Regions from separate parts of the Homo sapiens genome. Here regions 1 and 3 are each linked to region 2. Evidence: fine-mapped expression QTL. A gene starts in region 2. Each other region holds a variant in brackets. All regions are shown on one strand. Distances are between the middles of the regions.

Region 1 (2,765 bases), 49 kb after region 2:
TTTTCCATATCCTCAGGGATCCCACAGGTTAAATCTAACATGTTAGGAAGATGTTGCAGCTGGAGAATCTTATGGAAATAAGGGGAGGGGAAGACAAGGAGGATGATAGTGTGCACGTCTCTAGCATCTGTACTTTATCTGTGCAATCTTATTTTACACTGATGACATGGTGATGATAGCAATAGTTATTTTTAAATGTTTGTTATTTAACACAGGTTTTGTGCTAAATTCAATATCCATTAACTTACATCATTTCATGATTCCCTTATGAAATATTCATTGTCATATTCCAATTTTACAGGTGAAGGAAATGAAGTAGAAGGATGTTACATACCTTGTTCAAAGTGACATAGCTGAGTCTGCTTGGACTGTGGTTCAAGCCATGCAGCCTAACTCTAGAACCCATGCTTTGCTACCTGACTTTCCAGACGTAGGAGGCAAATACCATAATCAGCTCCTTGTTTAGAGGTGTAGGAATTGAGGCCCAGAAAAAATAAGTAACTTGTCCAAAATATGTAGTGAAATTGGTACTTGAACTTTTGTCTGTCTTTCAACTACACTACCACCTCTAAATGCTCAAATTCAGATCATTTTAGATTTAAGGACTAGAAATAGCCTTGGAGATCATGTTATTAAATAATTACTCATTTTACAGATAATCTGTAATCACTAAAATCATTTACCTAAAGCAGTCAGGAACAGGTTCTATACAGCAAAGCAACTTAACATACAAAGGAAAATTATTGTTTGAAATATTATTTCTATTTTTTTTTTTTTTGAGATGGAGTTTCGCTTTTGTCACCCAGGCTAGAGTGCAGTGATACGATCTCAGCTCACTGCAACCTCCGCCTCCCAGGTTCAAGCGATACTCCTGCCTCAGCCTCCCGAGCAGCTGGGATTACAGGTGCCCACCACCATGCCCAGCTAATTTTTGTATTTTTGGTAGAGAGGGACTTTGACCATGTTGGCCAGGCTGGCCTCGAACTCCTGACCTCAGGTGATCCACCTGCCTCAGCCTCCTAAAGGGCTGCGATTATAGGCATGAGTCATCACACCCGGCTGAAATATTACTTCTATTTAATATTTAAGAAAACAAAATGAGGAATTCAATTCTTGATGGCAACACAGCTCTTGCTAGTAACTTAAATGCCTCATTGTTTCTCTGCAACAAGAGGAAAACTTGGGAAAGGATTCTGTAGGCACTGAGACCATCATAAGGAATTGCAGGACCCAGAGATTTTCATGAAAGTGAAATTGCTCATAGGAAATCAAAGCAAATGGCCTTAAGAGTGGCATCCAGTGGACCGTCCTCTGAAAAGTGACCCACAATTCTGCATGAATCTTTCCAGGACACTGAATTGGAGCCAGCTGATGTAAGGAGCTTACCTTGGTTGCCACCTTCTGGTCTCTGTTTGAGGAACAACTGCATGTGATTAAGGGTAACAGATACAGAATTTGTGTTAAGCCCAGGATGTAATTTGTTGAATGAGTAGCAATTGACTTGAAAATTGGATGGATGGGGATTGTGTTTCTTTACTCTCTCTCTCTTTTCTTTCTCCCTCTCAATACGGCTAGATTAAATCATCTTTAGTCTAGTCAAATCAGTGCTTGCTGTTGTTAAGAAGGATATTCTTGAGGTATAGTACTTCAGGGATGCTAATTGGGATTTGAGCAAGATGAAATTTCTACCCAGG[T/C]GTGTGCATCGTATACTGGAGATGGCAAAAACTGGTTCCAAATGAGGGTGTGTTTGTGTTCCTAGGCATGTTCCTATAGGGGCCAAAAAGATGCAAAATCTTCTTTTCTAAAGCTTTTGGTGTTCTCAAGCTTGTCTACACAATGGAATCACCTGGAGAATTTGGAAAACCAAAAATACTGATACCACTGATCCTACCCAACAGATTCTATTTTAATTGGTATGGAGTATGGCCTCAGCACTGATATTTTTTAAAGTTTCTGAGGCGATCCTAATGTGCAGCAAAGCACCGTCAAGCCCCCTCTCTCTGAGGAGGCACCAGCTGCAAGCATGTTTTACACCAATATGTTTGCTGAATATAAACATCCCAGTGCAAACTCTTGCACCCCAGAACTCTGGGCTGCTTGTGGACAGTCTTTGGCAAAGTCTGAATTTATAAACTGATAATACATATAATTCCATAGGCTCCATATGGTTCGTGTTATCCTGGGGGGAACTATACACATTTGCCTTGCCCCAGGATGGAAAGATAAATAACAGATGTGGATAATTTTTATCATACTTGTACTGAACAATAATAAAAAAATTAGAAATGAAGGAGCAGAGAGAGAAGTAAAACTCATGAAAACAAAGCTCAAATCAATTATTCTACGTTATATCTTTGCATTTTTAAGAATCCAAATACACAGTAGTACTCCATAGAAAAACCTGTCATACAGTTCTCCATTTCTAAGGGAGACTATCTCTAGAGTGATGAGACATAATATTAAAATTGTATGTTAATAAAGTTAATCAATTTGTTATTAGTGATAAAAAGTAAAATCTACATAGAGCTTACTGTGTACCAGACACTGTTCTAAGCACTATACAAGTATTAACTTATTTAACCCTCATTATAATCCTGAGACAAATCCTATTATTATCCTTATTTTACAGATGAAGAAACTGAGACCCCAAGAATTTAAGTAATTTGTTCAAGGCAACACACTGCTATGTGGTAGAACTACAAATTGAGCCCAAATAATCCAGCTTCAGATACTATGCAAAGGTATCCTAGGTGTGGGGGTGATAA
Region 2 (2,731 bases):
AAGTCGGCGCTGCCGGAGAGCGGCTCCCTGGCTTCACTCGGCGGCAGCTTCTCGGGTGACCAAGAGCCCGGGGAGCGGATCCGCTGAGCCCGGCTGCAGACTCGTTAGCAGCGAGGCTTTAAATACAAAAGTGGGCCGGGAGCCCCCGCGTGGTGCCGCGGTGCCCCCTCATTATGCATGCATGGAAAAGCAAACAAACAAAAACATTAGCAACGCTCCTCCGGCTCGCCGAGCCCCGGCCCCGCGCGCTCCGAGCCTGCCCGCTTTCTCCTTTCTCCACTCTCTTTCGCCCTTTGCTCGGCCCCCTTTCCCGGCTTTTCGAGATGCTATTGGTCCTGCCTGTTGTTGTTGAAAGTTTTTTTTTTTTTTTTTACGAGCCGCTGGAGTGGGGTTGCGGAGTGGGGGAGGGCGGGAGGGTGGTGGGCAGCTCACATTCAGGCATTCAGGGCTTGAAAGGAACGGCTTAGGGAGCCTGACGGAGGCCCGGAGCTCCTCCTACTCTTAAGGAGGCTCGGATATGCAGCCCCAGCTCGCGCACAGAACCAGCGGGCAGGGCTTAGGGGCAGCTGTTTGCATCCGGCTCAGCCACGGGCCTTTTTTGTTTGTTTTTTTTTTCTTTTTTTTTTTTTTTGTAGTTTTATTAATTCTCGCTGGCCCCCATCTGTGCTTTCGACTGGATTCAGAACTCAGTTTATCTTCCAGGCTCCCTGTCTTTGGGTCTTGATCACCACAGAGGGGAAGGGGAGAATCCAGAGATAAAATGTGAGACTGAAACTGTTTTAAAGAAGCATACAAGAAAGAAGCACACACTTTATTAGGGAGATGTTGATGAGATGCTTACAACCCGCCCGCCACCCCCCAGCCCCAGCTAGGCCATCTGGCAGGTACCGCCCGTGCGCCAGGCATCGTTTTCAAATTGCAAGACCGAAATCCAATCAACCGAAATAATTTCTTAGGAAGATAAGCTTGCAACACGTGCAATAATGAAAAAATTTAACTAGCATTAAAAATATTCAGGAATGTCGAGCAATTACCACCTGGCCGCAGTCACAGGACAGAAGACGGAATAAATGGGCACGCACCAAAGGTTTATATTAAAGTGTAAGTTTCAGCCCCTCAGTATATTTAAGGGAGGCTGCTCTGCAGAGGAAACCTCTGCCTTCTCGGCGAGGGAGTTTCCGAGCTACCTTAACTGGGGCGCAACGCAGCCTTCCGCCACCAGAGGCAGCGGGCGTCTGCGGCCTGTCAAAAACTGGCGCTTTTTTCCTCCCCTTTCCGTGGAGAGACTATCAACTCCATCTGTCACAAAAATTAAGGCTAAATCTCCTCTCCAGAAGCAGAGGGAGCCGGGGCTCCGACGCGCTCAGCGTCGGGCTGTCTGCCTCTCCCTAGAGGCCAAGTGAATTTGAAATGGCAAAAGTCACAGCCGGAGGCCCAGCACTAGGAGATTCCTCCGGCTGCGGGAAATCTTCCTGTACCTGCTGAAGCTGCTGCGTTCCTCAGAGGCGCTTGGTCTGCCGTGGGAAGCTGCACCTCTGCAGTCCCCAAAACCAAAATCAAACCTTAAAAGAGCCAGACTGAGGTAAGGCGGACCGTCTTGCTCTGATTTGAGTATTGGTAGACAAACAGCAATATAAATCGATACTAAAAAAATCCAGAAAGGCTGCAACTTCATGGCACATCAAAACAACCATATCCCTGGCTCTCTGTCTCTTTTTTTTTCTCTATTATTTGGAGTTGTCCTCTCAGTCCGGCCTGGAGGACTTGGACAACTCAGACACCTTCTCTGTGTCTGGGATCCCTCCACAGGTAAGGTTCGAAGCCAATTAGACAATTGAAAAATCCCCTCTTGTCTTTAAAGCTTTGTTATTTTAGGCCCATAAGGAACAAAGTCAGCACTCGGTTTCATCTTTACTTGAATTTTTGTTGAGTTCCTTTAGAATAGTGGGACCCAAACCTTAGCACGTATCCTAAAACTCAGATCCCTAGTTTTTGGAGTTTCTGATTTAGTTGGACTGGTGGGTCCCAAGAATATGCATTTCTAACAAGTTCTCAGGGAATGCTGCTCTCAAACTTTGAGAATCACTGCTCTCAAAGTTAACATGTTTCTTTTCTGTGTTGTTGCTGTGTTTTTGGTAACACTTGCCCCACCTTGGCCTTGATACAGCTCTCAGTGGGGTTTAAGGGAGGCCCAAGAGCTCTGCATGCTTTGGGGACTTCTGCATCCCAGTCACATAGCATTAGCATTGCAAGCCTGAGGGGTTCTCAGCCCACTTTTTACTGTGTCATTTCCATTCACCACAATAGGCTATACTGTCTTCTATCTTAAAAAAACATAATAGTAAAACCTTCTAGACTCCACGTCCCTATTCAGTCACTATCCCATTTTCATGAAAACTTGAAAATCTTGCTTTTACTCACTTTCCCCACTCGATTCACTCTACATAATCGAGTTCCATTCGATTATGTAGAGTCGCTAGTGACCAAAACCTTGCTCTACCTGATTGTCACTTCTCAGTCCTCAGCTTATATGACGTTTCAGCAGCATTGGCCATGACTGATCACCTCCTTTTCAAAGCGCTTTCTAAAATTTTGGCTTCCGAAACTCCATACTCCCCTGTTCTCTCATTTTACTGCCTGGTGGCTCCTTCTGTCTCTCAACTCCTTAGGTAACCACATCTAGTGCCTTGATTTTAAATTGCATCTCCTAATTTGATGTTTTCAATCTCAG
Region 3 (2,765 bases), 190 kb after region 2:
ATTTCAAAAGAGCCAGAAGTGAGGATCTGGAATGTTCTCAACACACAGAAATGACACATGCTAGTGGTGATAAATATCCTAAATACCCTGACTTAATCATTACATATTCTATATATGTAACCAAATATCACATGGATCCCATAAATATGTATAAATATAATGTATCAATTTAAAAAAGAAGCCAGTAAGCAAATTTTATTTTATTGGATTTCTACAGAATTGTTTTTTATGAAATTGTGCTTTGGGCATACCAAGATCTTATGCAAAGGGCCATAGAAAAAAACCTTACGAGGCTTCAATATCCAAGGAAAGTACATTGTTGAGGACATCAATCATTATGTAATGTTCAGGAGGACACCAGGAAGAATTACATATCTTGCTTTAGAAGAATAATTGAAATCTTTTTCAGTGATGCATTTTGTTCTTTTCCATCTTAAAAACATTGTCAATTGTATAAGTGGCCAGGTTAGGGCCATATCTTAAACCTGAACAGATTTAGATCGATACACAATGAACTTTTTAAGCTTCATTTCTTCCTTCATGGCATTCTTTCTCTAATGTATCTTTTTTCTTTCATCTAAAGTGTATTTAACACTCTATTTTATATTATACTTGTTTTCATAATCCACTAACTCACTCCTGGAATTAAGTGAAATATAAACAATAAATAATCTCTTAAGGGCTAACACTTGGAAAATGCTAAATTCTAAATACCCTTGAAGTCTCAGTGACCAAAATATAGTTGGACTTTAAGAAACATAGCAAGTTGCATCACTTCTTCCTCAGGCTGTATCTTCCCAAATCTTAAGGGAAAGGGAGAGGCAGTTTCACTCTGCTACATTGAAACAAACATCCTCCCCTATGCTCAGTTACCATCTCTGTTGTTTTGACCCTCAGGATGTGGTTATTTGAAAATTCTAGTTGCACTCCTTGTCAAAATTACTCAAGTAACATTGAGGACACACTTGGATTCTCTAGTCAAGGAATTCTGACTTTAAGATGACTATAGGTGTATTGATGGATGAGTGGAGGTCATTATAGAGCATATTTCCTAATCTCATTCTTTCTTCCATTATGTTCTTATCCCGTTCCATTTTTCTCTTTTTGCCTTATTTATATGTGATATGACATGCCCTTTATCTTCTGTTATATCTTGTTATACACTATTAATTCATTTCTGAAACTAGGTGGGATATAAATTAATATATTGTTTCCTGCTCTGTGGGTTTTACAACCTCTAAATTGTAAATTGGTGAAGTCACCAAACCTCAAGCAGGCATTTTGGTGTTACTGTACTTT[C/T]GATGGGCAGAATAATGCCTCTCCCTGCAAAGATGTCCACATTTTAATCCTGAAAACCTATGGATATGTTACCTTACACAGCAAAAGGGACTTTGCAGATGTAATTCAGGTTATGGACCTTGAGGTGAGGAGATTATCCCGGTTTACCTGAACAGTTCCAATATAATCAGAAGGGTCCTGATAAGAGGGAGGTTGGGGGGGATAAGACTCAGAGAAGAAGACTTGATGAGGGAAATAGGGCTAAGAGTCAAAGGGGGATTTGAACAGATTATGCTGCTGCTTTGAGGATGGGGGAAGGGGCCACAGAGCCAAAGAATGCAAGTCGCCTCTACAAGCTGGAGACAGGCCAGGAGACTAGAACCTCCAGAAGAAACACAGCACTGCCGACACCTTCATTTAGCCCAGTGAGATTCCTGACTTACAGAACTATAAAATAACAAATTTGTGTTGTTTTATGCCAGAAAGTCTGTGGGCATTTGTTAAAGCAGCAGCGGGAATTGAATACAACATTCCTTGAGAGTCTAGATGACTGCCATATCCCAATTGTGTTTTTACATTTTCTGTCTTTCTCTCTTATTCTTTTTTGCTCCAGAGACTTTGGTACTGTCCATTTCTTAGCCCTGAGTTTGCTCCTGGTATATGGACTAGATTCTATTATCCTGCCCAGAATTGTTCAGGTTTGAACTTCATGCACCTGTTTCGACACTGATACATCAAACCTATTCTGCCTGGGTACTTTGCCCAGATAGGACATCACCTTTCACTGTTCGTTCCTTAAGCTACATGGTGCCCGCCTTCCAAGTGCTGACACCTTCCCACATCTGTAGTGTGCTCACTGTGCAGTCCACCTGCCTTTATGCTTTAGGACTCAGTGCCATTGACAGAACTTTTCACAATGATGGGAATGTTCTACCTCTGTGTTCAGTATGGTAGCCACCGGCTGTATGTGGCTATTGAGCACTTGAAATGTGGCTACTGCCACTGATAAACCAAATACTTAATTTTATTTGATTGTAATTCATTTAAGATTCATTTTAAATAGGCATCTGCGGCTGGTCATTACCAAACTGGACAGCAAAACTAGGTTTTCACAAAATTCATTTAAATAATGATTAATTGAAACAGTCACCAGACACCTATAATCCTTAAGCTCAAATCAGCCAATTTACTTTAAATATTGCTTTAGAGGAAAGGCTGTCATAATAAAAAAATATATAAAAACCAAAGACATTTCTCCATGAAATAGGCTTCAATTGCATGGAGAGTGATCAGCACTTAAACAAAATCCCTCTAACTATTAAATCTTTGTGCATGTTACCATTACCTTCAGAAAGTCATAAAAGGAAATGTCCTTAATTAAAAGAGTAACTTTTGTGGCTCTAGGGACATTTAAATGTCTTCAGTATAAATAAACCACATTTGCAGTTGGATTTAAAGGTGTGTCCTTCATTCGTTCTGTTTTCAGA

Evidence for each region. PIP is the estimated chance that this variant, and not a neighbour inherited with it, causes the effect. A credible set is the group of variants that fine-mapping cannot tell apart.
Region 1: its variant is the best candidate, but not a certain one, in a credible set for the expression of GAS1RR in esophagus muscle (GTEx, PIP 0.55).
Region 3: its variant is the best candidate, but not a certain one, in a credible set for the expression of GAS1RR in nucleus accumbens (GTEx, PIP 0.53).

The regions. Positions count from the first base shown.
Region 1 is chr9:86,995,965-86,998,729 of GRCh38, forward strand. It overlaps GAS1RR (GAS1 adjacent regulatory RNA), which reads left to right. Exons shown (of 7, transcript NR_049794.1): 6 at 1,350-1,439; 7 at 2,630-2,765. Among named protein-coding and RNA genes, the nearest start is that of LINC02893, 45 kb to the right of the region's middle. The variant T/C (reference allele first, on the strand shown) is at 1,695.
Region 2 is chr9:86,947,412-86,950,142 of GRCh38, forward strand. It overlaps GAS1RR (GAS1 adjacent regulatory RNA), which reads left to right and starts at 1,287. Exons shown (of 7, transcript NR_049794.1): 1 at 1,287-1,582. GAS1 (growth arrest specific 1) reads right to left here and starts at 95. Exons shown (of 1, transcript NM_002048.3): 1 at 1-95.
Region 3 is chr9:87,134,954-87,137,718 of GRCh38, forward strand. No RefSeq gene overlaps it. Among named protein-coding and RNA genes, the nearest start is that of LINC02872, 12 kb to the right of the region's middle. The variant C/T (reference allele first, on the strand shown) is at 1,300.